7 linked regions of the Homo sapiens genome follow. The protein of the gene in region 4 interacts with the protein of the main gene of each other region in a pairwise test. Each region holds a gene or a part of one and is shown on either strand. Other genes may lie near its edges.

Region 1 (3,249 bases), on a different chromosome or scaffold from region 4:
CATGGCATTTTGTTTTCATTTCCATAAAGTTTGTCTCCTAATCCTTATCTATTAAGAAATTTAAATTTTTCTCAGGTACTTGGTAAACTACAATATCCCAGTTAACATTAACTTCCACGAGACTCCTACAAAGACCACATTATGCTATCTAGAGTGGGTTATTATAGGCACTAAATGTACTTTCAACTCATTTTGAATACTCAAACTTACCAGCTCTAGACTGGTGGACGTGTTGCTCCAAATTGATTGCATTTTAAGTTGCAAACTTAGTTTTTGGTTCCTAAACAAGAATGCCCACTTTTCCTGCTGTGTCAAATTATCTGCTCAGTAATACAAGGCAAGGCCGAGGTGGGAAAACTTGCTTGAGTTTAAGACCAGCGCTTGAGTTTAAGACCAGCCTGAACAATGTAGTTGTACCCCACCTTTATAAAGACAAATAAACTCTAAAAGCTTAGTGTTTGTCAAACGCACAGAATAAACAGGTGATGTAGGAAAATTTTACCTGTATTGGCGACACTTCTCCCATAGAATACAGCAGCACCCAGCATTAAAACTCTTAATTGAAATCATTAAGTGGCTCTGAAAAGAGCCTTTGGGTTTGAACATGCGTCCATTTATTTGGAGCTGGTGTACTTGGTGACGGCCTTAGTGCCCTCGGACACGGCGTGCTTGGCCAGTTCCCCAGGCAGCAGCAGGCGCACGGCTGTCTGGATCTCCCTGGAGGTGATGGTCGAACGCTTGTTGTAATGAGCCAGGCGGGAAGCCTCGCCGGCGATGCGCTCGAAGATATCGTTGACAAAGGAATTCATGATCCCCATGGCTTTGGAGGAGATGCCGGTGTCGGGGTGGACTTGCTTCAGCACCTTGTAAACGTATACGGAGTAGCTCTCCTTGCGGCTGCGTTTACGCTTCTTGCCATCCTTCTTCTGCGCCTTGGTCACCGCCTTCTTGGAGCCCTTCTTCGGGGCGGGAGCGGACTTAGCTGGATCAGGCATTGCAACAAGATAAAGGAGTAAGAATACACCCCAAAGTGAAGGCTCAACAGCACAGCTGGCCGTTTTTGTAGGTCTTTTATGCAAATAGGTGCTTAATCATTCTCAATCCCTGATTGGACCAAATCAGCCAATAAAAAAGTTAAATTCAAGTCTACTTTTTGATTGGATATTTATGCGAAACCTACCCTAAATCCTTTTCTACACCTCCCGGGGGAAAAAACGTAGTTTTTCATTCAAAACATTAGAAAAACTAATGCCTTGCCAGTAACATCTACCTATAAGTTCTGTCTCCTTAGGTGAGAATTTAAACAGAAACAAAGACGGATATTATGTTTCTAGTTTCCTACCAAATTGCAGCTTCCGGATTTAAAATTATCTATGAATAACTAATTCTAAAATGGAAATTAGCTAAAGATTTACGTGTTTCCAGAATTATACCATTGGCTTTCTTTTATAATCTGATCAAGGTCATTAGCATTCTTACATAAAAATTTAAGCTTTTTCAGTAATCAAAGGATGAACACATCTCAAGAGCGATGGGATTTTAATATCCCCTAGGAACGGAGTGTCTGGAAGTGAAACCAGTGTTTGTTGAAAGGTTCAGAATATATGAAATAGGGTACTTATATTAAAAATAAAATATTTCTTCAAAGTAAGAGTTTTTTAAAAAATATAAAGGAGACATTGAGCTGGACCAATCACTCTCAAACGCGGTATTTTTGAATCGCTCCGGAACTGCAGAACGTTCATTTCCGTCTGTCAAACATAATCCCAAACAAACTGATTAAAATAAAATCAATGAAGGTACGTAATACAGGTAGGCACATAAAACATAATAAAATGTAAGGAACTAGGGGAAAAAAGCATTTAGATAGGTTAAGATTTTCTAAAATGAGACCTAGTAGCTGATCACAAGTCCTATCACACTACATAATTCAGGGCGCGAAACTGGAAGATTCGGACCAATCAGAAGGACTTTGCCTTTATAAATAGGAGTAAGAACAACTGTTTGTTCAGTTGTGACCATTGCTTGAAACCCATTCCTATGGCACGCACGAAGCAAACAGCTCGTAAGTCCACTGGCGGCAAAGCCCCGCGCAAGCAGCTGGCCACTAAGGCGGCTCGCAAAAGCGCGCCAGCCACCGGTGGCGTGAAGAAGCCCCACCGCTACAGGCCTGGTACTGTCGCCCTCCGTGAAATCCGCCGCTATCAGAAATCGACTGAGCTACTGATTCGCAAGCTACCATTCCAGCGTCTGGTACGTGAGATCGCGCAGGACTTCAAGACCGACCTGCGCTTCCAGAGCTCGGCTGTGATGGCGCTGCAGGAGGCCTGCGAGGCTTACCTGGTGGGGCTCTTTGAGGACACCAACCTGTGTGCTATCCACGCCAAGCGAGTGACTATCATGCCCAAGGACATCCAGCTCGCTCGCCGCATTCGCGGAGAGAGGGCATAAGTTGTACTGAGGGTGTGCGCCAACTTAAACCAAAGGCTCTTTTCAGAGCCACCAACAATTTCAGTTGAAAGCGCCGTAGCACTAGGGAGTAATGTCTCCTAAAACAAGGAGGGTGGAGGGTTAGGGGATGGGGGCAGGGCCGGTGGCTCTTCTAAACTAGGCTTTTGTGTCTTGGCCATTGTCTTCAAAATGGCCGATAGTGGCGGCTCACGCCTTGTAATCCCAGTACTGTGGGAGCCCGAGGAGGGCGGGTTACTTATACAAAGGTCAGGAATTCGAGACTAGTCTGCCTAACATAGTGAAAACCCGTCTTCACTAAAAGTACAAAACCAAAAAACAAAAATACGGGTGTGGTGGCGCCCTCCTGCAGTCCCAGCTATATCGGGGGCTGAGGAAGGAGAATCGCTTGGACCTGGGAGGCAGCCGTTGAAGTAAGCCGAGATCGCGCCACTCCACTCCTCCATGGGTGACAGCGAAACCCTGTCTCAAAACAACAAAACAGAAAATGGTTGTGTGCTGAGGCAAAACCAAAACTACAGGGACAAAGGAAACAACTTGTTGACAAAAGTGTACGAAAGCTTTATTTGTGACAGTATGGGGAGTTAAATCATTATTATTCTTTTTGGCTTGCCCTGAGAGTTCATTTGAGACATCAACAGGAGAAACGGATACAAGTTAATATAATACAAATTTTACTTGGCATGGGAGCCTTCCAATTAAAACCCCGAGGTGCAGGTGAAGCTGTACACTATGCTCAGGGAAAACGGGGTTCAAGGAAATATTATTGCAACTTTTTTT
Region 2 (4,534 bases), on a different chromosome or scaffold from region 4:
CCACAGTGGCGGCCACTGCCCCATGGACACCTACATGCGTCGCAAGTGCCAGGAGTGTCGGCTTCGCAAATGCCGTCAGGCTGGCATGCGGGAGGAGTGTGAGTTTCTGGGGCTGGAGTGGGGAAGAGGCTGAGGGGAAAGAGGGGGCCAGGGTGTGACCCAAAACAGGTGCCTGAACTTGCAGGGGCTAACTGATCCCTAAGTATGGATCCCAGTATCTTTCTTGACCGGGCGCGGTGGCTCATGCCTGTAATCCCAGCACTTTGGGAGGCCGAAGCGGGTGGATCACCTGAGATCAGAAGTCCGAGACCAGCCTGGCCAACATAGTGAAACCCCGACTCTACTAAAAATACAAAAATTAGCCGGGTGTGGTGGTGAGCGCCTGTAATCCCAGCTACTCAAGAGACTGAGGCAGGAGAATCACTTGAACACGGGAGGTGGAGGTTGCAGTGTGCCAAGATCATGCCACTGCACTCCAGCCTGAGCAAGTGTGAGACTCTGTTTCAAAAAAAAAAAATCTTCTTGCCTTTACCCAGTGCTGTCTGCTTTTCTGGAGCCCCAAACCACCCCCTTTGCCCCATCCTTCCCTCCTGTCTTTCCCCCACCCCCTTGCCCCATCCTTTCCCCATCTGCTCCCTTCCTCATATTTGGCCCTGTCCTTAGGTGTCCTGTCAGAAGAACAGATCCGCCTGAAGAAACTGAAGCGGCAAGAGGAGGAACAGGCTCATGCCACATCCTTGCCCCCCAGGGCTTCCTCACCCCCCCAAATCCTGCCCCAGCTCAGCCCGGAACAACTGGGCATGATCGAGAAGCTCGTCGCTGCCCAGCAACAGTGTAACCGGCGCTCCTTTTCTGACCGGCTTCGAGTCACGGTACTTGACACACCTGGGGAGAGGCGGCTGCGCCCAGATCACCAGTGGGCTTCTTGATGTCCGACTCAAAGCGCTTTGCCTTTTCCCTCCTGGGTAGCCTTGGCCCATGGCACCAGATCCCCATAGCCGGGAGGCCCGTCAGCAGCGCTTTGCCCACTTCACTGAGCTGGCCATCGTCTCTGTGCAGGAGATAGTTGACTTTGCTAAACAGCTACCCGGCTTCCTGCAGCTCAGCCGGGAGGACCAGATTGCCCTGCTGAAGACCTCTGCGATCGAGGTGGCTGGAGAAGGGCAAGGGATGAAGGGAGAAGCAGAGTGGGATTATCTGTGGGAGGGGCCTCCAGACATCGAGCTGGGAGAGCCAAATCTGCTGGGAAGCAGGGATGAGGAGAATCGGCCTCCCTGGAAGAGGCCATGCTCCAAGACCAGCCCTCCTAGTCCCCGTTTGAGGTTTGCTGCTTGTGTGCAGGTGATGCTTCTGGAGACATCTCGGAGGTACAACCCTGGGAGTGAGAGTATCACCTTCCTCAAGGATTTCAGTTATAACCGGGAAGACTTTGCCAAAGCAGGTGAGAACTGAGATCACACAGGGATTGGGGTTGGGTGGACAGATGCTTCTTTTTTTATTTTTTATTTTTAAAAATTGAGGGCCAGGCGCGGTGGCTCATGCCTGTAATCCCAGCACTTTGGGAGGCCGAGGTGGGCAGATCACCAGGTCAGTAGATCAAGACCATTCTGGCTAACACGGTGAAACCCTGTCTCTACTGAAAATACAAAAAATTAGTCAGGCATGGTGGCACGCGCCTGTAGCCCCAGCTACTTGGGAGATCGAGGCAGGAGAATCACTTGAATCTGGGAGGCAGAGGTTGTAGTGAGCCAAGATCGCACCACTGCACTCCAGCCTGGGCAACAACAACAACAACAACAAAAATTGAGATAGAGTCTTACTATGTTGCCCAGGTTGGTCCCAAACTCCTGGCCTCAAGTGATCCTCCTGCCTCTGACTCCCAAAGTGCTGGGATTACAGGCGTGAGCCACCCACCATGCCCGGCCAAGTACTTTTTTTTTGTTTCATTTTTTTTTTTAGACAGAGTTTGCTCTGTCACCCAAGCAGGAGTGCAGTGGCGTGATCTTGGCTCACTACAACCTCCGCCTCCCGGGTTCAAGCAATTCTCCTGCTTCAGCTTCTCAAGTAGCTGGGATTAGGTGCACCACCATGCCCAGCTAATTTTTGTACTTTTAGTAGAGACAGGGTTTTACCATGTTGACCAGGCTGGTCTTGAACTCCTGACCTTAAGTGATCCATGTGCCTCAGCCTCCCAAAATGCTGGGATTACAGGCATGAGCCACTGAACCTGGCCAGGACTGGTGCTTTTTGTCAGAGGCCCATAGTGACTACAGAGCCACAGGCCCAATGTTTGGGTGGCTGGTAAGGGAAGGCTCCCTTGTTTTTTGAAGATAGAAAATTGGAATGCTGATAGGCTTCTCTCAGCTGCTCCAGATAGACCCCTGTCCTCTGTTGCTTTAGGTCAGTGGTTTTCAAACTGTATTCCAAGGAACCTGAGAGATATATGGAATGGCACCTTGGAGGAGAAACAGGGAGGCACAGGAATGTCCTTCATCTTTACTTTAGCCAAACAAGAAGCTCCATTTAAATCTGCATTATATATTGCACTGCTACATAGTATTTTGCTTGCAGATTTTACAGCTTGAAAAAAAAGTTTGAAACTCAGTGCACTCAACTTTTTAGTAGTCAAAAAGTGAACAAATCTTCCTCACATGTGCTCTTTGGGGATCATGGGGGCTGATTTCCCCTACTTTTTTTTTTTTTTTGAGATAAGTTCTTGCTCTGTCACGCAGGCTGAAGTGCAGTGGCATGAACGTGGCTCACTGCAGCCTCAACCACCTGGGCTCCAGTAATCCTCCTGCCTCAGCCCCCAAGTAGGTGGGACTACAGGCATGCACCACCATGCCAGGCTAATTTTTATATTTTTTTGTAGAGAGTGGGTTTCGCCATGTTGCCCAGGCTGGTCTCAAAATGGTCTCGAACTCCTGAGCTCAAGTGATCCACCCACCTCGGCCTCCCAATGTGCTGGGATTACAGGCATGAGCCACCACACACAGCCTCCCCTACTCTTTTTCTTTTTTTTTCTTTTCTTTTTTTTTTTTTTTGAGATGGATTCTCACTCTGTTGCCAGGCTGGAGTGCAGTGACGCGATCTTGGCTCACTGCAACTTCTGCCTCCCGGATTCAAACGATTCCCCTGCCTCAGCCTCCTGAGTAGCTGGGACTACAGGCGCGCGCCACTACGCTCAGCTAACTTTTGTATTTTTAGTAGAGATGGGGTTTCACTGTTTTGCCCAGGCTGGTCTTGAACTCCTGAGCTCAGGCAATCCGCCCGCCTTGGCCTCCCAAAGTCCTGGGATTACAGCCATGAGCCACTTGTCCAGGCCCCTCCCCTACTCTTTTTCAATTGCACTTTCTGACGAACCAGAACCATGGCATGGCAAACATGCCCAGAGAGGATGTACAATAAGAGCGAATGCTTCCATCTCCATCCTATATCTGAAGTATTTTCTCCAAAAATTAGTTCATTCTGCGGCTCTCTATCTGATGCTCGCTTGGGAGCTACGCAGAAGGGGTTTCTTCATATTCAACTATTGATAATGTTTGTATCATGAGAACTGGCCTGGGAAAGGACGGGAGGCTGAGGGAGTTTTGGAGGGACTGGAATTGAGCTTCAGCAGGAAACCAAGTAGCTTAACGACTGGATGAGTGGGGCTGTAAAATATGGCTGATGCCCTGACTCCACTCTCAGGGCTGGTAGATCTGTGGCCAGGCCAGTCATCAAGCCTTCCTTGGTTTCTGATAACTCAGGCCAGCTCACGTGCCTCTTGCTCTCCCAACGCAGTCCACCCAGTGAGCTTTCTAGGAAGGCCACTCTTCGCTGTAGGGCATAACAGGGCTATGTTGGCACCTTTTGCCTTCTATAGTAACCGGTGTGCTGCCTGGATGTATTGACACCTAATGGGGTGATTTAATGACTTTATCCAGCTTTAAAGCCCAGCCCTGCTCCCCTCTTCCAAACCACTTTTTCCTCGATGGTTATTATCTCAGACCTTCTTAACCGTGGCTCTCCCCTCCTTCAGAATATCCTCCTTGTGGAACCCTGCCCAGTTCTAAGATCTTTGTATTCCTTTGGCACTTGTAGACTCATGCTATCTGAATCTGCACCTATTCATAGATTTATTTATACAAGCAGTTTTGAAGTAATCATGCTTGCATTTCTTATTTCATGAGTGAGGTCTTGGGGAGAAGGAACAGGAGCTCTGCTTGTCAAGTCTCCTCCCCTCCCTATCCGCTACTATTTACTGCATGCAGTAGATAACTGGTGACATGGACTGAGCACATTTGAGGTGTTCATTCCGTGGGCATCAGCAGACCCTCAGAGGTGCATTAGCTAACTATAGAACCTCCTCTTAATTTCTCTATAAAGGGGGCTGTTTGCCACACTTTGGGGCTCAAAACCTCACCAAGAAATGCTTTAGAAAATGGGGCTTGCCGCCGGGCGTGGTGGCTTACACCTGAAATCCCAGCACTTTGGGAGGCCGAGGCAGGCGGATCACCTGAGGTCAGGAGTTCGAGACCAGCCTGGCCCATAT
Region 3 (4,534 bases), on a different chromosome or scaffold from region 4:
ATCTGAAACTTTTTCCTTAGAATGTGTAGTACAGAGTGGTTAAATCCCCAGAACAGTCTACAACATTATAATAATAAAATGCACATGTGTAACAAATAAGCATCATAATTTAATGAAAAAAGAAACATTGAATTAGAATCAGGAGACATGCATTCAGGTCCCAGGTACTTCAACTTACTAATATTTTGTGACTTTGAGCAAACTGGGTATTAAATTTATTTTTATTATATACATTTAAGGTATACAACATATTTTCATATACATACAATATATTTTCATATACCTATATATAGTGAAATCATTTCTACAGTGAGCAAGTTAACATACCCAACACCTTCCATAGTTATCCTTTGTGTGTGTAAGAGCACCTACAATCTACTCTTACCAAAATTTTAATATACAATACAATAATATTAACTATAGACCTCCTCTGTGCATTAAGTCTCTAGACTTACTCATCCTACATAATTGCAAGTTTGTACCCTTTGACCTACATCTCCCTATTCCCTCCTCCTTGAGTAAATTGTTTAACCACTTTCAAATCTGTTTCTTCACCTATAAAACGCAAATTGTAATTCATGTTTATCTCAAGAAACTATTATGAAGTGACAGCATTATTCATTTATTTAATAACCATCTACTGAGTACTGGTAGTGGGCATTTGTTATTTTGAGGCTGGCCTCCATTTCTGCTAAAAAGACCCAGATTATCCTTCAGGAAAATTCCATTTTTAGCCATATTATTTGGATAGGATTTGTCCCCATCCCCAGATCCACGAGTGAACTGTGACTGACTTAATCCAATCAGCATATTTTATTACTCAACTACGTAGTTCAGGGTTTCTGCAATAGGCATGTTACCAAGTCAGAAATGGTTATATGCAAAGACTCATTTGTTAGTTTGTAGGAAAGAGCAATCAGAAGAAAAATCTAAGAATATGACGGTGTGGTATAAGAATGTATAGTCTACAAAAATTTAATAATCAACTTGCTACCATAAGGAGAGAGTCAGAAGCTTCTGGAGAGACTATAGTGTGGAGCCTTAAGATGAAGCCAACGTTATGACTGGCCAGAAGGATGGAGAGAAATCACTGTGCCATCTCTTGAGCAGCTAGATCAAGCTTTGCCTGAAGTCAGAAACCTAGCCACTTTTCAGTTGCGTGAATAATTCTCTATGCAACACAATATTATACATAGCAATATAAATGAGTATTTAAAATCCACTAAAGTTGTTTTTTTCTGGGGGGTGCTTGCAACTGGAAGATACTTCCTATATACAGTGCAGTGTGCTAGACACTAAAGTGTAGTAAAATGAAGTATCTACCTTTGATAAGTTTAGAGTCTAGCCTAGGAACTCAGGATTATTATAGCACTATGAAAGCTAACCATCACATATAAAAGCATGGACCCCCTTCATTTCTTGATAAGAATGTCTATTGGTGTTTATAATGAGTATTGTGATATTCTTAAAAGGATTATTCTGGAGTGAACCTGAACAACTCACCAAAGAGAACCTGGGGAAATGAATGGAATCAGCATGTCCTTTTAATAGGCTCAGGTTATTTTAATATTTATATTCTGTAAATGAGGTGAGAGCCAAAGGCATCTTTCACACAGGAAAAAGCAATTTAGTGGGAAGTCCAACAGGGGTTAAGATCTTTGAAATAAGATGTTCTACCTCTGACAGTATTCTAGCTCTGACAGAAAACTGACATGAAATAGAATACCATCTGCTATTGCAGTTACGTGGCTACTGGTAAGAACTGAACAAAATAAGAGCTAAGTCAAGCTTCAACAGAGTAGTAACAGTCATGCCAACCAGCTAAGAGATATGCTTCAAGCAACATGAGTAGGACTTGATAAAGAATCCCTGAAGTATATGGGAGTTCCAGAGGCCAGAGGCATGGAAACCTCCAAAAAGCCAAAAACGAAAACTGAACAAAACCAGCCCAGCCAACACCTTGATTTTAGCACTGTGATACCCTGAGTATAGAACGCAGTCAAGCCCACATGGACTTCTGATCTACAAAACTTGAGTTAAGAAGTGGGTGTGGTTTTTAGCTGCTAAGTTTCCATTACTTTGTTACGCAGCAATTGAAAATGAATACAGCGTGCTTTACTCAAAGTCTGAGTCTCTATTGAATCCAATGTCACTTTATATAATAAAGCTTTTTCCTTAATGGTAACAAGAGAGAAACTGGAATCATTTTTAGGTGAAAGTTAAACATGTGAAATGACTGCACTGATAGAAATCTACATCTATATATACACACATTTATATTTACATATATATATATAACAGGACAAAAGGAAAAGGAGGAGGCTGTATCAGTTTCCCATTGCTGCTTACAAATTACCACAAACTTAGTGGTTGGCTTAAAACAACACAAAAGCATTATCTTAATAGTTACGGAGGTCAGAAGTCTATAATGAGTCATCAAAGCCATGTTCCTTTTGGAGGCTCTAGAGTAAAATCTATTTCCTTAATTTTTCCAACTTCTCAAAGATGCCTGCATTCTTTGGCTCATGGCCCCTTCCTCCATCTTCAAAGCCAGCAAGGTAGCATCTTTCAATGCTTTCCTTGTATAAGGGACCCTTGTGATTACATTGAACCCACCCAAATAATACAAGATAATCTTCCCATTTCAAGATCCCTAACTTAATTACATCTGCAAAGTCTCTTTTGCCATATAAGGTAGCATTCACAGGTTTTGGTAATTAGAATGTAGGCATTTTAGGGTGCATTATTCTGGTAATTAGAATGTAGACATTTTTAGGGAGCATTATTCTATCTACCACAGGGACTATTATTAAAACCAGTTCTTTGAATACACTTTAGGGAGTAGCAAAAAGCAGACTGTTTTATTTGGAAGAAAAAGGACTAATCAGACATTAAAACCTGTCCTCCAGAGAGTATTACTGAAGTATTTTTAAAGTATTTTACCTACCTAATACTTCAAAAAGAAGTACAGTTTTCTGTGCATGTTCACGCCAATACTTCATGCTTTCAATAACTGCAGAAATAATTCTTAAAGAACTAGCTTTTTCCTTAAACTGTAACTGATACAATGAGGTTTCCTTTTGAAAAAATAAGAAACATAGTATTAGAAAAATATTTGTTTTTTTCATCATACTCGTTTACCTTCTACGTAAAAATTCTAAGTCCTTACAATGGACAAGTGTGTAAAAAGAACTACTGAAAATTTTAGTATAGTTACTTCCCTAAAATAAGGCCATCAATACTATATTACAGATGGAGAAACCAGGGTGCACTTAGAGACAATCAAGAGGAGAATTATTTATATAGGTATTCATTCACTCATTCATTCATTGACTATTTTAAAGCATCATATGCCAGATCCTGTGACAAATATAGGTAAGGCCATTCCTTTCCCTAGTGCACTCACACTCTAGGGGACTCTAGGGAAGGAGCCAGACACATTCATTCATTCATTCGTTTCAAAAGTGTTTACTGAGCACCTACTACATGCCAAACATAGCTATTTAGGAAAAATTCATGGACAAAACAGTCAAGATATCTGTCCTCGAAGATTTTATTGTCTAGTGGAGGATTTAAAAAATAAGTAAACATATAACAGAATGTCAGGAAATGTACTTTTTTTTTAGGAAAAAAACACACAAGGTAAATGGAAAGAGAGAGAGATGGGGGTTATTATTTTAAGTGGGTTGTTGAATGAGGACAGTGGGAACAGCAAGTATAAAAGCCCTGAGATGGAAATGTTCTTAGCATTTTTGAAGATCAACTAAGAATACAGTGTGTTAAAATACTAATTTTCAAAGGCAAGGGGACGCTTTCCTTTGTGAGGGTGAGGGTTGTGAAGAACATATGATGGGACCTTTTTTCAAAATACAGGTAGTTTCTTCCCTCTTCCCCCGCTTAACGAAGATTCTAACATGCCTCCTGTTGATGATGGCCACAGTAAACCACTGTTACTAAGGTGATTATGTCATATAATTCTTGAGTACAAGGAAACATAAGATTGAGAACCACTGTGAAACATGCTTTATTAATCTTATTTCCAACAAAAAACAAAACATGCAAAAACAAATTTTACCCCGATGGCTTTTTGAAAAGATTGCTTTTTCAGACATAAGGGCAGAACAAAAACTAACAACTGTAAGAAGTTGTTACCATTCCTAGGCTGAAAGGACAAGAGGAGAAAATAAAAGTATCACGCCCAGGAAAGCTATACTCATGAAGGGGCTACATCATGCAGTGACACAGCCACTGCTGGTGATGTAACATTTAAGACAGGAGAAAGTGAGAAAACCCAACCTTTCCTCCCACCCTATGATGTCGTACCAGTGACTCCTACTGGCTGACCTCTAGCAAAAGCCAGCAAGTAAACAATCTCAGGATGATGCACTACATAGGACAGTTCAGCCTTCCACAACAGAGAAGGGCAGGTGAAGAATCAAGTGGGCCAAGGGGCCAGGGAGCAGAGATGAGGAATAACCAGCACACATAATATATAAATAACATTTACAAAGAGCAATCAGAGCACTGAGCGTAG
Region 4 (4,534 bases):
GTACCCCTCCCCTGCAGCCCCAAGCACCCAGGGGCACCATCACATGCATGGCTGACACAAAGACCCCCAGCTAGCCACAAGATTGAGCTCTTAGCATGCTTCCTTCTGCTCAAAAAAGACACAACTGACTGAAAACCTGGAAACTAGAGAGAAATTACTGTCAGGCATGACATTTTAAAAGGGGGAGTTATCCCACAAATTTGACAATTGTAGGTTTTTTGCTTTGATTTTTACCAGTTAATTTTTACTCTTGTTGACTGGCCAGTTGTGACTTATGAGCCAGTTGGTATGGAAAGGTTCAACATGCTATCACTTAAAGAATTGAGCCTATTCCACTTTATACAGAAACAGAGGTTGAGTAAATAATCCCTAAGGCTCACTTTAACTCTTACCATACTATGGGCCTAGCACAGTGGTTTTTTTTTTTTTTTTTTTAATTCAACTGATTATTATTACTATTATTTTTGAGACAGTCTCACTCTGTTGCCCAGGCTAGAGGGCAGTGGTGTAACCACGCCTTACTGCAGCCTTGATCTCTGGGGCTCAAGCAATCCCCCCTCCACCTCAGCTTCCCGAGTAGCTGAGACTACAGGTATGCACCACCATACCCAGCTACTTTTTTTTTTTTTTTTTTTAATTTTCTGTAGGGACAGGGTCAACTATGTTGCCCATAGTCTTGAACTCCTGGGCTCAAGCAATCCTTCCACCTTGGCCTCCCAAAGTGGTCAGATTACAGGTGTGAGTCACCGTGCCCAGCATATTCAACAGACTTTACACTTAATGATAGGTTATTTCTAAATATATCCTTTAGGAAGAGGTCTATTTCAAACAAATATTCTGAGAATTAGAACTTAAACTGAAGTTTATGAAGCATTAACTTTACTGGCAACGTTTTCTTTCTAAAGCTGAGAGATGGATACATGGTGGGTATTACTGGTTACAGCTTTAGAGTGCATGGAAATATTTCCTATTAAGCTCCAATTTTAATTGTAGCAATGATAAAATGTCCACTAAGTGAAGAAATGGTTCCACAGAAGATTATGCTCACCCTCACAGCTGTACAAGCTAACTTGCAAGTAACAGAAGACTCATCCTTCAGTGTTTTCCGCAGCAAAGGAATGCAATCCGCCAAAGAAAATGTATTTCCTAACCAGAAGAACAAGCAACAAACATCATCATCTAAACTTAAACCTTAGTAAGCATAACTAGAAAAAACACAGCTGAAAAACTGGCCGTTACCTGTGAGGGTTCTAATGGTGCCCATCCAATCTCCCACGTGGAAGCGGGACCTGCTGAGGATGGAGCAGATGAGGGTCCCACAGAGAATGGCAGTGGCTCCTCGAACCTGTGGGTCTCCATGATCGATGTAGTTCAAGATGTCTGAGACATACTGTTCCTCTGTGGAGATAAATTGCTCAGCCATGGAACAATTCCCTACTATCAACTTTCTAACTCGAAACAAAAGCTTAATTCTCAGGAAAGAGAAAAAGAGGTGTGAAGAGAAGATCCAAATTCAGAAATGACTTCACTATAATAACCCTAAGTGATTAAAAAAAAAAAAGTTTCAGGATTTAAGAATTAGAGATTCATCATATTGCCAATATGTCCTCAATACCACAGACTTTCTGGATTATAATTCTAGGTTGTCAGATAATAAATCTGATTAAAATTCCAGATTCCACTTAAAAAAGATTAGAAAAAACCCTATTACACACTTACCTCATATAAATTCAAAAACACAAGTGTACCCTCTCACCCAAAGAAAAAGAGAGAACGAGAAGGCTCCATAGTAAGCATGGGCGCGATGGAGACTTGGGTCCACTGCTGCCTCAGCCAGTCCTGGTTCCCACTCACCCTGAGTGTGAATGCCTGGCCTGGCTGAGTGCGACTCAGCGCCACTGCGACCAGGCACAATTTGTGCTTTAGGTTTAAATCCGATGTGTATATATGTTGGCTCTTACGTGCTGAGGTTTCTACTTTTCTCCTCTATGGGTTTCATCTAAAGGGAACCCATGAAACAAAGAACTTCACTATTCATGTGTTTTCTGAAGAGCTACAACGCAGGTCAAATATCCCAAATGAACTCAAAACACTTACTGCTCTAAAACTAAAATAGTCAATACTGAAATAGTTTTTACAATAATGATTAAATCTGAGAAAATAAGATGTGAACTTTTAACATACCAGGGTATTCCGTGGTGTCAAGAGGAACTTTATAGAGTTTGCTGAAGAAAGATTCCGGGTGGAGGGCCACAGCTGCTCCCACACAGCTGAGGGCCAGGGCCTTCACGCTGACCCTCACATCCCTGTCCGGAACCAGCACTGCCAAGAAATCACCCAAGCCACCTTCAGCCTCAAACAACAGATTGTTTTCAAATGAACAAAACCAGACCCAATAACCTACCTGCTCCCATCATTTCCTCCCTCCCCTCGGCTAGTGAAAACCAAACTCATCCTCAGATTCTACTTCCTCTGCTGCACGCAAGGCAAAAACAGGCCACCAAGCTGACCTCTGAAACCTAGTTATTTCCTTCAACTGTGCACATCCCCTTTTGTACTCACCATTTTTTCCCCCTGTTAGCAAAAACGAAGCAGATAAAAGGCGGACACAATGGACAAGAGGTGCAGAGTCATCATCAGTGGACTGTCCAATGTCACCTTTGATGCGGCAAGGCTAGAAAGGAGACAATGACACTTGTTTGTCTCATACTCAACAATACATTCATGCATTAGTTCATTCAACAGATAGTTCCAGAGCAGCACTTAAGCCAGGTGCTGGGGATAAAGAGATGCCCTGGTTTGTGCCCATATGCACACCTGACCTCACAGAGACCATGGCCAAGCAGAAACAGACAAGTCAGAGGCAGCAGGACACAGGGTCACAGGGCTGTGGCAGGGGATAAATGCAGCATGCAGGGAGGGTGGGCGTGGTAAGAAGGCAGTTGACACTAGGCATTCAGGAACGGCTGCTGCAGAAGCAAAGCATGAAAGGTCTTCTACAGGACAAGCAGAAGCTACTTGGGGAAAGGCAACAGCCTGGGGAAGCCCAAATCTAAGAGGAAGTGGGCCTGGTAGATAGGGAGATGCCAAAGGCTATAATTCTGATTGATGGGACGAACTGTGAAACGCTATTCCTTGTCCTTGAGGAATTAAAAGTGAAGACAGTTACATTTACATGTAAAAAGATAATATGAAGAGAGACTTTTAGAACAGTTCAGTAGAACCAAAACAAGAAACGTTGCAGGCCATACGCAACCATCAAATGAATGATCCAAGAAATCAGACAAGGAAACATTCAGTACAGAATAGATTTGTCTGGGGCACACTCTCAAAGGAGGCAGAACTCAGGCAATTCTCAAGGCTGTGGGTAGTACCTGGAAAGGCAGAAAACAACAGGCCTGGGAAGAGCTGGTATTTAAAGGGGAAATTTAAAGGCCCAGGGATGGGAAAGCAATAAAGTAGACAGTAGCCAGGGCGATTTTAAATCCTCACACAAGCTCAGAAACACCAAGTCGTCTCAAGCCTATGTCCCTCACCTTGTTTTCTTGATCACCCGGTTCAGTAGCTTCATCTCTCAACACAAATTTATCAACACTGCTGTCAGAAGGCTGCCTGCAGTGACTCATGTTTTTCAATAAATGTGCCTGTTGAAGGGCTTTAAAAACAGAGAAATCAAGATTAAGTGACAAATTTCCACTTAAAATACAATTATACATTTATGCTAAGATAACTCAAAAGTATAAGATTTAGATCAAGAAAAAGTATGATTATTCCTCAATTGGTCATTTTCATCAGCTATTCAGAACTCAGAAAACAGTATCAAAGGACTTCTTCTTGGAAGCAAAGATATAATTAAGATGTCCAGGTCTGAATACAAACCACTTTGTAGCGCATCACCTGTAGTCCACATACCCATGGAAGAGTTCCTGAAGGCCTCCGAGGCTTCATCAGGAAGAATACCTGTGGCTTCCTCATCTTCATCCTGGGGCTGTCCAATCTGCAGGCCCAAATACTGGTTGTCGGTACCGTCTAACACCTAAACGGTTCAAGGGGGGCTGTGAGAATTTTGAAGTGTGATCACCAAGAGACAAGCCCTCCAACATGGAAGTGCAATGAGGAAAGAGCACATTTTACACACAGAACACAAATGTACTCATCTGTCATTTATTTCAAGGCACAGAAATGCACGCATGGAAACTGCTAAGAGCTTACTGATCACTCATTCCCACTACATTATGAAAAGCTCTATTAGCTCTAAAAACTCCAAAAAAATTCCAATGTGGACATTTCTTTTTAATATGAAAAAGAAAAAACCCATACAAAAATATTTGTCTTCACAAACAAATTTTACAGCAAGTTGGAAATATGAGGACAAAGCTTTTCGACAAAAACCTAACAATATAACAGGTTATCTCCTAAATTGCAAAGACTAAATCTACTAAATTTAGGGTATGGTATTTCATATGTTTAGCCATCAGCTTGGGGCATGATTCCACATCACAAGATGTTTCATGTCCACTTGAAATGTCCTGTG
Region 5 (4,534 bases), on a different chromosome or scaffold from region 4:
TCTATAGAGTTCACTGTAACTGTTTGTAGATTTGGCAACTGACCAGTGCTTAGACTAACTGGAGTTGAAGTGAAGGCTCCACCTGCCGCAACTTGACCAAGTGTGAGGGTTTGAACAGGCGTCAAAGTTATTTGTTGGGCAGCAGTATTCTGTATTTGCAAATTCTGCAAGTTCTGGACCCCTTGTACTTGAAACGTTTGCCAAGTTACCTGTCCAGAAGGGGTCACTGTCTGTGCCTGAATTAAAAAGGTTCCAGGATTCAGCTGCAACTGAAGATTTTGCAAAGCCTGTTGTGATATATTTTGACCACTGGCTTGCACACCATGGATTGTCTGTGGTGTAATACCTTGCACAATTTGGGCTTGACTGGTTGGCTGCTGAGACTCTTGAAGTTGTAGATGCTGTACAACAGGCTGTGCTGTAGAAACCTGAATATTCTGTGCCTGTGTCTCTTCAGAAACAGGCGACTGGATATAATTTCCCTGAAGATCTGAAGAATGAACCTGCCCACTAGATGTAGTCAAGCTATTTGTGTTTTGTTGTAATATACCTGTACTATCTATCGTAACAGGCAACTGTGATGAAGAGGATGTTGGCACAAATAAATCTGTATCAGTATTAGTTTCATTAATATCAGGAGAAACCCGCTCACCAGTCCTTTCTGAATTGTCTGAACTATCCATAGCTTGTCCTGTGTTTATCAAATGTCCGTCGGCATTAATGCCTGCAGTCATTGTCTGAGAACTGCCCGAGAGTCCCAAAGAATCTAGATCGACACTATTGATTGGTACAAACGTAATATTTCCTGGCAGACCAAGAGGCACATTAGCAACTACTTGGGTTTGACCAGGAAAAGATGAACCACCAATTGCAACTCCCTGAACCTGGACTTGACCAGTCTGTGGTATGAGATTCTGGATGTTAGCAGAAGGTGTTCCAGAGGCAAGTAAGGTTTGATTAGAGCCAGGAATGATCTGAATTTGACTGCTTTCTTGATTTATACCCCCATTATCTGAAGAGCCTGTGAAACCAATTTGAACCTGCTGACCATCTGCTGACTGGATCTGTGGTATCACTTGATATTGAACACTGGACACTGTACCATTTGATGAATCTGATCCTGGTGCAACGGAAAATATTTGTTGATTCTGCAAATTCTGAAGGGGAAGAACATACTGCCCACTTGAAGTAGCAGCACTTGGAATCTGGACTAGATTACCAGCTTCATCTTTTATAGTTGTAGGTGTGGCTGACAAAACCTCCCATCGGTTTGGTGCTCCTCCTAACTGTGCAGAAGCCAAATCACCTGTCTGGATGAAGAAAACAAAAAGGTGATATATTTGTGGTATATTTAAATCAACCCTCAAAAAATTCTAAAAACTGGTATAAATCCTACTACCTGAAAATTCAACTTATCTTAAAACACAATGGAGTTCAAATACAGGAGCAGTACTATATGAACTACAATAATTATCACTTCCAGTTTTGTTACTGCAAAGACAATTCATCCTATTTGAGTGGGATAAAAAAAATTCTCGGAATGTTCATCACAACCACAGACCAATTTTCTAATCCTGCATCTATGATCTCTAACACTACACAGTTAAAACACAAAACAAAACAGTGGAGATGGCTATGACCAAATCAGGTGCATTATATTTGTGTATAAAAAGGAAACATAAGCATAGTGTATTAAGTCATCCGACTTAGAAAAGATTTATTGCTATAAGCCTAAAATCAAACAATGAAATCTACTCTTTTGTGGCATCTATTAACATACTCTAAAGTAAACTCATGGCTAGGGCTATTCCATTAAGCTATCAAACTCTACTTTTTCCATGAACTAATGAAAAACAAAGACCTTAAAAAAACTTAATGAGAAAAAGTCATTGCCCTGTGACCACATGACAACGTAGCCCCATTTGAAAGGTTTCTCTAGGATCAGAAGCTGGAGGATACACACTGTGACTTTACTTACTAGTCTAAGTTTTCAGTAGAATGTCTGGCATATACCTTTTGTATTCTGGTGTATTAATACAATTTGAGGGAGAGAAAGATAATCTAGGGTTTCATTATATTCTCAATGGGAATCTCAATGGGACCATAAAAATCAGTTGAGACATACACAGTTCTCTCAACATAAACCATTCTATAAAACTTAATGCAAATATGATAAACAAAAAAATCTTAAGTTTCTTAAAGAAACTCACTACCTAATTTTCATGAAGACATAGTTGAGAAATATATACAGTTATTTCAGTGGATGAACCACAGTTAAATGACTGAATTCAAACATTTGAACGTAATTTACCAAGATGAAATACACACGTGAGTAAACCCATGACATACAATCCCAATCTTCAAACGGTTCACTGTCAATCCAAGCAGACATACACACATCCATGCTAATACAATGTGAAAAGTAGCACAGACTAGTCATATGATCAAAACACTCTGTGGAAGACACAAGATTGAAAAAAAAGATTTCATACAGAGATAAAGTAGTATTAGAATATAAGATTTTCCTGTAGTCAGTTAAAAAAGAGGCACTAATAAAAGCATAGAAACAATAAAATCACAAAAAGAAACCCTAAATAATAATATGCAGTTTGGAGTTGAAGAAAAGATCCCAAAAAGGCTCATATTCATAGAGGAAAGTAATGGGGAACAGGACTAGATATTTTTATCAACGCTTGTAAATGGCTTCACAGATCCCACTAAATTGTTTAGACTTTATCCTGTAGATAGTGAGTGAAAGCTATAAAAGGTTTATAAGCAAGTGAGTGGTGCAATCACATCTGTGTCTTATAAAGATAAACTAAGGCTCAATGAAGGAGACTGAAAGAAAGGGAGGAGACTAAAGGCTGAGAAATTGTGGAACCCAATACAAATCTCTAGGCCTGAACTATAAAATAGCGATCTGTCTTAAATACACTTAAATTATATTTACTAAACAATTTTAAAATGAAGCATCAGACATTAAAGTCACATGTCACTCTGCAACTTCAATCTGGTATAGAAATTACAATGTTAAGTCACCTTTCCTAACATTACAGTGACAAATGTTTCATTTCGGTCTCTTGGCATTTTAAGTAAACTACAAATATTTAAATCTATATACTAAAATCTACACTAAAGTGTGTCTAAAATCTAACCTTTATCTTCTTAAGGTTATTGCTCACCTGGAGGATCCACTGAAATTTTTTCTGACCAGCATAAAATTTACAGGTATTGAACTTTTATCAAAGAATATAGTAACTCAGACACAAATTAATTTTATGATACTGGCATTTTGTCCCTTTTCCTTTCTTTAAAAAAAACAAAGTCAAATTTACAGCACCTAAAGTGTTTTTTTTTTTTTTTTACAAAATAGTAATAAAGGCAGATATTCAACCATCACTGAACAGCTTTCTAGTCAAGAAATTCCTTGAAAATAAATACAGCTAACGCAAATGACAAATCTGAGTAAATATTGCCCAAGTCATCCCCTCTCCAGAAGCTAGATAAAAATAAACTGTAGTGCCATTTTTCTCAGCAATTCAGGCCATTAATTGAAGGAAAATCTCTAAACCTAGAGCAAAGTGATGTATTCCGAACTTTTCTGAATAAGCCTGAAATGAAAAGCATTATTAAAATACCTGTGAAGCACAACGATGGGGGAAAAAAAAAAAAAGCAACAGGTAATTTAAGGAAAAGAATCAAGCAAGAAAAGGAACTTTTTTAATTTAATAAATTTGCAGTTTTAAAAAAATTTGCTGAATACCCTATTTTCTAAATGGAATGGAAAAAACACATTGAATCAGAAAACTACTAGATGATTTATGCCAAAACTACACTCGACAATATATTACACAAGAAAAAAAAAAAAGCTCAGAACTGAGTTCTAGTTCTGGCTACACTGTGGAATTGTGTGAGTTACAGCAACTCAATTTTCTCATGTCAACAACCGGAAAAACATTACCTTGCAGGGGCATAAGAATCAGAAGAAAAATATTAAATTTTATAAACTATTGAGCACTGTGCAATCCCAAGATCATTGTGAGTGCTAAGATTATGAGAATAGATTTGAAAAACATCCATTAAAATTAGCCTAGCACAATTCCTGGCACTCAGTAAGATCAATATATATTTACTGAATGAAAAGTTATTTTACTTTAAAATCATTGCAAACACAATGACAGAATGGATCAAAACAAATTTTGAGGTATTAAGAGCCTTCTATGAAAAAGTCTAAACCAATTTTAAGCCTATTTATTTCCACAATTCCACAATGAATCAGCTCCAAATATTTCAAAACTACAAAGCCTTGCAAAGCACAATCAAATTTCTTTGTAAAAGAAATTTCATCAGCAATATACCACTAAAAGAGATAAAGTACACTAAATACCAAATGGGAGAGGAATAAATTAGAAAATCATCTGAGACCAAAAAAAAAAAAAAGTTTGAAAAATGTTTGATGTTAGACTACTGGAAACACTACAGAAACAAAAGAATAAAAGGAGATTTAAAAACGTACAACCGTGACAGGGCCGGT
Region 6 (4,961 bases), on a different chromosome or scaffold from region 4:
AGGCTGCTCTCGAACTCTTGACCTCAAGTGATCCGCCTGCCTCGGCCTCCCAAAGTGCTACGATTACAGGCATGAGCCACAGCACCCAGCCCCAAGTCTGGATACTTTTAATGACTTTAAAGCATAGCCAGGGCGGACCATCACTGATTTAGGTCATGGATGACAGAAACAGATTCTCACACTATCCTTCAGCCAGCACCCATGATGGGGGCAGACATGGTAATCAATTTCAGGTCTCAGAAGTCTTTGCTGCCATTATCAGTGGACTGGAGCTGTGGGAGAAGCTGCAGGGGAGAGAGGAGCAGGGCAGGTGTCAAGGAATTTGAACCTCACCTGCACTTCTCTAGGCTTTCTGGGCTGGAGCCCCTCTCCCAGGAGTCCACCCTGGTTTCCTAGGCAGCCCCTCCTCTGTGCAATTACTGCCCCTGCTCACTTCCTGACATTTTCCCATCATGCCTGGGCACTGAGCCTCCTTCAGCTGTCTCCTCTGTAGCGAGGGGCCCTGCGCGGGGCAGGGTAAAGCACATGTGTACCAGACAGGGCCCCCAACATGCACATTGTGGAGTGTGGTGGAGGCAGCTGGTTTCTGCCCACCTTTCCTGGGCAAAGGCTCCTGCTATCTCCTCCCCCACTCCCCAGACCCACTCGGGCCTCAGACTCTGCCCACCAAAGCCGCTTCCTCCCCCGTCCTGTGACAGATGGAACAACTGTCACCGGGGCGTTCAGCCTTCCTGCCAGAGAAATGTGGACATGGGAGATTCGGTGGGCTTCCACCCATTCTCATCCAAAGCAGTCATGAGGACCGTCACATTCGACCCTCCCACTGGCTCTGAGGGGTGGCATCACCACCGTGCATCCCAGTTGAGGAAATCAAGGCCCCTGGACCCCAAGAACCCAGAGAAAGATCAAGATGGGCGCTCTGGGACTCCCAAGCCAGAGCTCCTCCCCAGGCCCACCGTCCCTGGGTCTCCCCCACCTAGAAACTGACCCAGCCCACACGTGTTTCAAGGATGCATGCGCCTGACCTCCCAAGAGCTCGCCCAGAGTCTGGGGGACCAGGAGTGTGAGAGGGACTGGTGACTGGCCCAGGGGCAGAGTGGGTAGCAGAGGTGAGGAGGAAGAGAGACTCATGCAAAAGTGTTGTTTTTTATTTTCTTTCTTGGGCCAGCTGCAGCTTCCAACCAAGAAAACCTCAAAGCATTAGGGAAGGAGCAGGTGTGGGGCTGGGGTGGGGAGAATCCCCTAAGCTCCAGGGCCCAGGGTCTAACCTGAGAGGTCGGGGCTGCAGGAAGCTGGGGGAGGCTCCCGGGGCTGGGGGAAGAGGAGCCTGCCCCCAGCAGAAACAGCAGGTCTCAGCGGCTACATGTGCTTTAGAGCTTGGCTGGGGGACAAAAGTGGGAGAGAGAGAGAAACCGGCCTCATGACTCAGCTGGTCAGGAGATAGGGGGCCAGATGCTGACCCCAAATCCCCGGCAGCACCCCTAGCAAATAGGTCTGTATCAAAGATTCTGTACAGCTGGTTTTGGGGGTGAAGGGCACCTATGGGGGCTTAAATAAATGGACAGGGGGCAAGGGATGTAGCGAGAACAGAGGGTGACTGTCCGGCCAGCAGCCTGGGCCTCTGGCGCCCCTGCATGCTGACCCCCGGTGCCACCTGCCCACTGTGGCCCGCGGCACTCCCCAGATGGGAAAGGAGGGAAGCTCTCCAGCAAGTCTCGGCCCCACCTCTCTCTGAGCAGATGGGACAGGAAGACGGGCACTGGGGGGCTGGGTGGGGCTTAGCGCAGGTCCTCCTCATCGCCCTGGATGGTCTTCTTGATGCGCAGCAGCATGGTGGTGAGCCACTGGTCCAGCCGGGAGATGGAGTCGTATTCCTTCACCTGAGGGCACACCAGGTGATAGGCTGGCCATGCTCCCCCCGTTCCCAACCCTGCAGCCCAAGGGCACTTGTCCCAAGGTTTTCAAGATCTGTCTCTGTCACCCCTGGTCTCTGAGGAGGAGTAGAGGGAGGGCTTGAGGCCCCAACTCAGCCATGGGAGCTCCCTCTTGTCTGTCTTGACTATGCTGGGCACATCATTTCCCTTGGGGGAGAAAGATATTGTAGCTTTAAAAAAAAAAAAAGGTCCATGGCTGGGCGCAGTAGCTCACGCCTGTAATACCAGCACTTTGGGAGGCTGAGGCGGGCGGATCACGAGGTCAGGAGATTGAGACCATCCTGGCTAACAGTGAAACCCCGTCTCTACTAAAAATACAAAAAATTAGCCAGGCGTGGTGGTGGGCGCCTGTAGTCCCAGCTACTCGGGAGGCTGAGGCAGGAGAATGGCGTGAACCCGGGAGGCGGGGCTTGCAGTGAGCCGAGATCACGCCACTGCACTCCAGCCTGGGCGACAGAGCGAGACTCCGTCTCAAAAAAAAAAAAAAAAGTCCAGCATCCTCACTGAATGGGTGGGAAACTGAGGCCTGGAGATATGGAAAAGGCCACTCCTGAGTGCCATGGGACACGGGGGAGAGAAGCCACGGCCTGCTGGGCATCCCCTCCCTGAGCTCCTGGCTGAGTTGCCACCCACTGTCTGGGGCAGGAGGAACAGGATGGCATTTTCACTGTCCTCAGTTAGGGGCTTCCATTCCCAAGGGGCACCTAGGGAGAAATGCTTGACATGTGCCATTAGAGGAGTGAATCAGGACCTGAGCCGGACACCACTAAGCCCGGGAATGCTGGGAACAGAGAAAGGGAAGGGAGAGAGAGCCGCGTGGGCGGCTCCACCAGGCAGAGGGAAGCTGGCACCTCTCCCATGTCCTCAGCTCCACTCTCCTTCTCACCCCTTCCCTCCCCGTCTGTGCCTCCTGGGTGCCCAAGGCGCCCACTGTGAGTCTCACACACTCACCTGGGGGACTCAAGGAACCCTGGTCTTCAGAGGCAGACAGATGTGGCTCTGAACACCAGCTCTGTCCCTGAGGGGCCAAGGCCGAGCCTCCTGACCTCCCCAACCTCAGTGCCACCATCTATAAAATGGGGAGAACACTCCCTGCGCCTCTTGGCGCTACTTGTAAGGTTTCTGGGGTGACTGGAGAAAGAACTTCACAGTGGGCTGGGGGCCAGATGAAATGGGTGAATGTCATGGAGAGCGTGTCTGAGAAGGGCAGCTTTCCTAGGAGACCCATCCCCGTGAAGGGGCCTGGCCCCCCATGCTGGCCACTCACCGACTCGGTGTAGCTGTCCACATTCTGCTCCTCGTGGGCCTCTAGCAATTTCTGCAAGCAAATGGCAGAGAGGGGTCAGGGGCCTATGCTGACCTGAGGTCTGGCCTGGATTAGATGAAAGGACACGCTATCTGTATGCCAGGCCTGGGGCTGGGGCTTCCTGAGGACTCTCAGAGGGTCAATCCGTGTGGGTTAAACTGGGGATGGGTACGGGCGTGTTGCGATCCTGCTGCCCTATTCATCAGAAACGGCTTGCTCTCAGGGCAACCTTACCAACATAGAACATCACACAGAATGTGTGTGTGTGTGGGTATGGGGGGTGTGTGTGTTGGGTGTGGTGTGTGGTGGAGGTGTGTGTGTGTGTGGTGTGTGTGTTGGGGTGTGGTGTGTAGGGGCACGTGTGGTGTTTGGTGTGTGTTGAGTTGCGTGTGTGGTGTGTTCGGTGTGTGTGTGGGGTGTGTGTGGTGTGTGTAGTGTGTGTGCAATGTGTGTGTGTGGGGTGTGTCATGTGTGGTGTGTGTGCAGTGTGTTTTGTGTGTGGGGGGGTGTGTCGTGTGGTGTGTGTACTGTGCAATGTGTTTTGTGTGAGGGGTGTGTCGTGTGTGTGTAGTGTGTGTGCGATATGTGTGGTGTGTGATGTGTTTGCTGTGTGTGGTGTGTGTGTAGTGTGTGTGGGGTGTGTGGGGTGGTGTGTGTGTAGCGTGTGGTGTGATGTGTGTGGTGTGGTGTGATGTGTGTGGTGTGGTGTGTGTAGTGTATGTTTGGTGTGTGTGGTGTGGTGTGATGTGTGTGGTGTGGTGTGTGTAGTGTATGTTTGGTGTGTGTGGTGTGGTGTGGTGTGTGTAGTGTGTGTGTGTGTGTCCACCTAGCCATCCTGAGCTCCAGCACTCCCCGAGTTGTACTTTCTTCATCTGGAAAATGGAGACTCAAATGGCCAAACAAAACAAAACAAAACAAAACAAAACAAAGACACCCTCTGAGAACTACTGGACAAGTCTTGGCGATTGTCCCACCTGGAGCCCCAGCCACCCCCGTCTGAGGTTCGGGAAGGGGGAGGCCGGAGCACCCAGCACTTACTTTCATCAACTTGCATTCCCGGGAATCAGAGAAAGCTGGGAACAGCTCCTCATACTTTTGGACAGCCAGCTGGGCAGCAGGGAAGGGAGAAGATGAGTTAGTAACAAGAGGGTCCTCAGAGCTACTGGCCTAGCAGCTGAGGGGACTTGGGGATGTCGGGTGATATTGAGTCAGCTCTTGCACCCCTCCCCCAGCCTCAGGTGTCACCTGGCTCTGTGTCTGTCAGTACCTTCCCGTAGCTGAGCTCAGCACCAGCCTGGCTGCAGAGATGGCTGCAGGGAGAGGTGGGTGGAGGGGGAAGGTTCCCCAGATAGGCACCCACTGCCTCCTCCCACCTGGCTCAGCTGGGGCAGGGGACAAATGAGCACATCCTCCATGCCAGGCCTGGGGCTGGTGCTTCTTGAGGACCCTGAGAGGGTCAAATGACGGTGAGCCCCCTTTTCAAAGTGAGGAAACAGATCCAGAGAGGGGCAGTGACCTGCCCAGGGCACGGTGAGACATGGGGTGGGAATGGGAACCTGGTCTGACAAAGCCCAAGCTTTTGCCCACCACCGGTGCCCACAGCAGGGCAGGGCTCTGTGGGGTGTGTGTGTGTGGGGTGTGTGGGGCCACCACCCCAGGCCGTGAGCCAGGGACACCAGGAAATCCTGGACTCCGTGCTTCTGCCAGGCAATGGTAAAAAA
Region 7 (4,534 bases), on a different chromosome or scaffold from region 4:
CTATGATGCAGTTACACATGCTTTCTGACCTCAGTATTTACCATAATAAATCTGCTCCTATAGTTGAGGCATACCACCCTCAGAAACCTATGTGTAAACAAAATTGAACCTGGCCAGAGAAAATGAACGTACTTGTTTAGGAAGATTGCATTGCAGAACAGGAAGAGGTGCTGCGCAATGATTCTTATGGAATCATTACTGATTGGTCCCATAAGGGGATGTTTAGCTTGAATTGCACCTCTCAGTTTGCGTGTCATGGCCACACTATGTTCAGCTGGTTTGAACAAAATGGTCAGATGGTAGAAATGGTAAGAAGTATGACAAGAGTTCCTATTATCTGGAAACATGGTGGTAGAGTGGCACCTCAATCTCAAATGATATGGCCCGCTGTAGGAGCTAAACATAAGGATTTGTGGAAACTATTAATGGCTCTTAATAAGATCCAAATTTGGGAAAGAATAAAAAACCATCTAAAAGGACACTCTACAAACTTGTCTTTGGATATTGCAAAATTAAAAGAACAAATATTTAAAGCATCCCAGGCACACCTGACCTTAATGCCAGGAACTGGAGTGCTTGAAGGAGCTGCAGACAGATTAACAGCTAGTAACCCATTAAAATGGATAAAAACACTTGGAAGCCCTTTGATTTCAATGATAATTGTGTTATTAATCTGTGTTGTTTGTCTCTGTATAGTCTGCAGGTGTGGATCCTGACTTCTGTGAGAAGTAGCTCACCTTGACAAAGCTGCCTTTGCTTTTATTGCTTTGTAAAACAAAGAAGGGGGACGTGTTGGGAATAGGCCTCAAAAATCTGGCCATAAACTGGCCCCAAAACTGGCCATAAACAAAATCTCTGCAGCACTGTGACATGCTTGTGATGGCCTTGATGCCCATGCTGGAAGGTTGTGGGTTTACTGGAATGAGGGCAAGGAACACCTGGCCCACCCAGGGCGGAAAACTGCTTAAGGTGTTCTTAAACCACAAACAATAGCATGAGAGATCCGTGCCTTAAGGACATGTTCATGCTGCAGATAACTAGCCAGAGCCCGTCCCTTTATTTCGGCCCATCCCTTTATTTCCCATAAGGAATACTTTTAGTAAACCTTATGATTGGCTTGCTGTCAATAAATATGTGGGTAAATCTCTGTTCAAGGCTCTCAGCTCTGAAGGCTGTGAGACCCCTGATTTCCCACTCCACACTATATTTCTGTGTGTGTGTGTCTTTAATTCCTCTAGCGCCACTGGGTTAGGGTCTCCACAACTGAGCTGGTCTCGGCAAGATTAATATCCAGAATATATATAAAGAACCTCTGGCCAGGCACAGTGGCTCATGCCTGTAATCCCAGCATTTTGGGAGACCAAGATGGGTAGACTGTCTGAGCTCAGGAGTTCAGAGACCAGCCTGGGTGACATAGCAAAACCCCATCTCCACCAAAAACACAAAAAATTAGCCAGGTGTGATGGTGCGCACCCATAGTCCCAGTTACTTGGGAGGCTGAGGTGGGAGGATCCTTGAGCCCGGGAGATAGAGGTTGCAGTGAGCCGAGATTGCACCACGGCACTCCATCCTGGGTGACAGAGTGAGACCGCATCTCATAAATAAATACAAAAAAACCTCAACAACAACAAAACAATCAAACTTAAAAATGGGAAAAGTATTTTATATTTCTCCAAAGAAGATATATAAATGGTCAGTAAGCACATAAAAATATGCTCAATATTTTTAGTCATTAGGAATGACATGAAAACTATTTTCATTTGAAAATAAAAATCAAAACCACAATGAGATAACATTTTAGGCCTACTCGGATGTCTATAATTAAAAAAAAGAAAAGAAAGAGAAGAACAAGTGGTGATCAGCATGTGGACAAATTGGAACCCTGGTGCATACTGGTGGGAATATAAAATGGTGCAGTCTCTGTGGAAATGTTTGGTGATTTCTCAAAAGGTTAAACATAAAACTGCTATATGACCCAGCAATTCTATTCCTAGGTATATATCCAAAAGAATTAAAAACAGGAACTTGAACAGATATTTGTGTATCAATGTTCACAGCAGCATTATTCACAATAGCCAAAAGGTGGAAACAAGGCAAGTGTCCATCAACAGATGAATGGTTAAACGAAAGTGTTATATACATACAACGGAATATCACTCAGCCATAAACAGGAATGAAATTTTGATATATGCTGTGACATGAATGGACCTTGAAAACATTATGCTTGGTGAATAAGCTAGGGAAAGTAATGACAGATATTGTATGATTCTACTTATATGAGGTACCTAGAGTAAGCAAATTCATAGAAAAAGAAAGTAGAATAGAGGTTGCCAGGGACTGGGGGGAGAGAGAAAGAGGAAGTTATCATTTAATAGGTACAGAGTTTTAATGGGTAATGATGAGGAAGCTTTGGGTATAGTATAGATAGAGGTGACGGTTACAAAATATTGCAAATATATTTAATTTCACAGAATTGTACACTTAAGAATGGCTAAAATAATAATAAATGTTGGCTGGGCGCGGTGGCTCACGCCTGTAATCCCAGCACTTTGGGAGGCCAAGGCGGGCAGATCACGAAGTCAAGAGTTCGAGACAAGCCTGGCCAATATGGTGAAACCCTGTCTCTACTAAGAATACAAAAATTAGCCAGGCGTGGTGGCACGTGCCTGTAATCCCAGCTACTTGGGAGGCTGAGGCAGGAGAATTGCTTGAACCCGGGAGGCAGAGGTTGCAGTGAGCTGAGATTGCATCACTGTACTCCAGCCTGGACGACAGAGCAAGACTCCATCTCGAAATAATAATAATAATAATAAATGTTATGTATATTTTACCACAGTAAGAATGTTACTCGTTGATTTACATATGACCCAGTTATCTACTCCTAGCTACATACCCACAAGAAATGAAAACATGTTCAAACAAAAACTTGTCCGTGCGTGTTCACAGCAGCATTATTCACAATACCCAAAATGTGGAAATAACTCAAAGATTCATCAACTGATGACTGGATAAACAAATGTGGTATGGCCATGCAATAAAATATTATTTGGCAAATTAAAACTGGGAAATTCTAATAAGAATAATAGACTGCATCAATGCCAATATTCTCATTGTCCTCTCAATAAAGATGTTTTAAAAGTTTCTTGTGAAGAATACTATTTAAGGGCTTTTGGGGTGGGGTGGCAGAAGATAAGGTGAAGCTTTGGAAAACTTTAGGTATCAATTAACCATGCTTTTTCTGTCCCTCATTAGAATTAAATAGTGAACCACATCTATCTCATCCAGCACGATGAATTTCGGTACATCTTTTACTAAATTTCAGGGTAGGATAAAGATAACAAAGTGTGAAATTCATATATTATTTTAAGTCATCTTACCAGTGAGTAGCTCTATCCATGTTTGGACAGTTTCTGTGGGTTCAGTTGCTTTGATGTGTTTCAGAGTTTCATCCAGTAAAACATCACCTGTTGGGCTGTCTGACTTTAGCAGTACCTTTGAGAAAAGGAGAAAGAAGGAACCCTGATTCCTTCACTTCATTCAAGTTAAAATCTTTCAATATATCATGTATATGTTACTGGTTAAAAATTGCAAGAATGTAAGGAAGCATAATATACTGTCTCTGTCCTCAAGAAGTTTAAAATATAGTATGGAGTGATAGTGCAAAGACAAAAATAACATTTGAAGTGGGCCCTAGTGACAAACTGGATATGAATGATAATGGAGAAAAGTTTCAATAACAACTCATTTTGAGTCTGGAAACCAACTTTTGAAACCATTAATAAAGGTAGGAAACAGCTGGGCTCAGTGGCTCATGCCTGTAATCTTAGCACTTTGGGAGGCTGAGGCGGGTGGATCACCTGAGCTCAGGAGTTTGAGACCAGCCTGGGCAAAATGGCAAAATCTTTTCTCTATTAAAAAAATAAAAATTTAAATAAATAAATAAATAAATAAACAAAGGCAGGAAAGTCAGAAAAGGAAGTCAGTTTTGGGGAAAGGTTGATAATTTGGTTTTCTTTCATTTTTGTTAAGTTTGGTTTTAAATGATATGGGATAGCCAAGTTGAAATTTCTAGCCAATAGTTAAATATGTTTCTGGAGGTGGAAAAACAAGACCTGCCTAGAAATTTGAAAATTAATCTCATGAAGGTGACAGACGAAGCTATAAAGGTAAATGATATCTCTGAAAGGACAGAAGATCACTCAAGTGATACAAACTGAGACTTGGATGTTAAGAAATGGAGAAGTAAGGAAACAGTGTATAGTCAGAGAAGCAAGAGAATAAGATAATAACAAAGGCCAATAATGAAGAAAGTTTCAAAGTGATAAAAAGTGTCAAATGACACATATAGGTTAAAAGAGAAAAATAAATCAAAGACTGAAAAGAAGCTGGTGATACCTAAGAATGTAGTTTAAGTGGAGTGCTTAGGATGATAAAGAAGTTGTGAGTGGAAAAATTCAGTAAGAAAATGGATACAGGAGTATGGTTGGAAAGGACTTGCAGTAAATGGAAGGAAACAGAATATTATTGGAGAATA

Evidence for each region.
Region 1: the proteins of HTT (region 4) and H2BC9 interact in binary tests that used the Homo sapiens proteins (3 or more experiments, as listed by UniProt).
Region 2: the proteins of HTT (region 4) and NR1H3 interact in binary tests that used the Homo sapiens proteins (3 or more experiments, as listed by UniProt).
Region 3: the proteins of HTT (region 4) and SPATA22 interact in binary tests that used the Homo sapiens proteins (3 or more experiments, as listed by UniProt).
Region 5: the proteins of HTT (region 4) and SP3 interact in binary tests that used the Homo sapiens proteins (3 or more experiments, as listed by UniProt).
Region 6: the proteins of HTT (region 4) and NAPA interact in binary tests that used the Homo sapiens proteins (3 or more experiments, as listed by UniProt).
Region 7: the proteins of HTT (region 4) and GOLPH3L interact in binary tests that used the Homo sapiens proteins (3 or more experiments, as listed by UniProt).

What each region holds. Positions count from the first base shown.
Region 1 is NC_000006.12:26,249,397-26,252,645, reverse strand, and holds H2BC9 (histone H2B type 1-H), read right to left. Parts: upstream 1,033-3,249; 5' UTR 996-1,032; coding exon 615-995; 3' UTR 571-614; downstream 1-570. Other genes in the region: H3C7 (histone H3.1), read left to right, coding at 2,041-2,451. UniProt on the Homo sapiens protein: Core component of nucleosome. Nucleosomes wrap and compact DNA into chromatin, limiting DNA accessibility to the cellular machineries which require DNA as a template.
Region 2 is NC_000011.10:47,260,578-47,265,111, forward strand, and holds part of NR1H3 (oxysterols receptor LXR-alpha), read left to right. Parts: coding exon 1-98; intron 99-663; coding exon 664-872; intron 873-969; coding exon 970-1,149; intron 1,150-1,341; coding exon 1,342-1,441; intron 1,442-4,534. UniProt on the Homo sapiens protein: Nuclear receptor that exhibits a ligand-dependent transcriptional activation activity.
Region 3 is NC_000017.11:3,443,525-3,448,058, forward strand, and holds part of SPATA22 (spermatogenesis-associated protein 22), read right to left. Parts: intron 3,078-4,534; coding exon 2,948-3,077; intron 1-2,947. UniProt on the Homo sapiens protein: Meiosis-specific protein required for homologous recombination in meiosis I.
Region 4 is NC_000004.12:3,129,426-3,133,959, reverse strand, and holds part of HTT (huntingtin), read right to left. Parts: intron 4,037-4,534; coding exon 3,913-4,036; intron 3,656-3,912; coding exon 3,537-3,655; intron 2,675-3,536; coding exon 2,563-2,674; intron 2,323-2,562; coding exon 2,185-2,322; intron 1,399-2,184; coding exon 1,240-1,398; intron 1,147-1,239; coding exon 1,049-1,146; intron 1-1,048.
Region 5 is NC_000002.12:173,954,923-173,959,456, forward strand, and holds part of SP3 (transcription factor Sp3), read right to left. Parts: intron 1,311-4,534; coding exon 1-1,310. UniProt on the Homo sapiens protein: Transcriptional factor that can act as an activator or repressor depending on isoform and/or post-translational modifications. Binds to GT and GC boxes promoter elements. Competes with SP1 for the GC-box promoters.
Region 6 is NC_000019.10:47,486,510-47,491,470, forward strand, and holds the end of NAPA (alpha-soluble NSF attachment protein), read right to left. Parts: intron 4,348-4,961; coding exon 4,279-4,347; intron 3,253-4,278; coding exon 3,202-3,252; intron 1,881-3,201; coding exon 1,779-1,880; 3' UTR 1,128-1,778; downstream 1-1,127. UniProt on the Homo sapiens protein: Required for vesicular transport between the endoplasmic reticulum and the Golgi apparatus. Together with GNA12 promotes CDH5 localization to plasma membrane.
Region 7 is NC_000001.11:150,658,437-150,662,970, forward strand, and holds part of GOLPH3L (Golgi phosphoprotein 3-like), read right to left. Parts: intron 3,493-4,534; coding exon 3,378-3,492; intron 1-3,377. UniProt on the Homo sapiens protein: Phosphatidylinositol-4-phosphate-binding protein that may antagonize the action of GOLPH3 which is required for the process of vesicle budding at the Golgi and anterograde transport to the plasma membrane.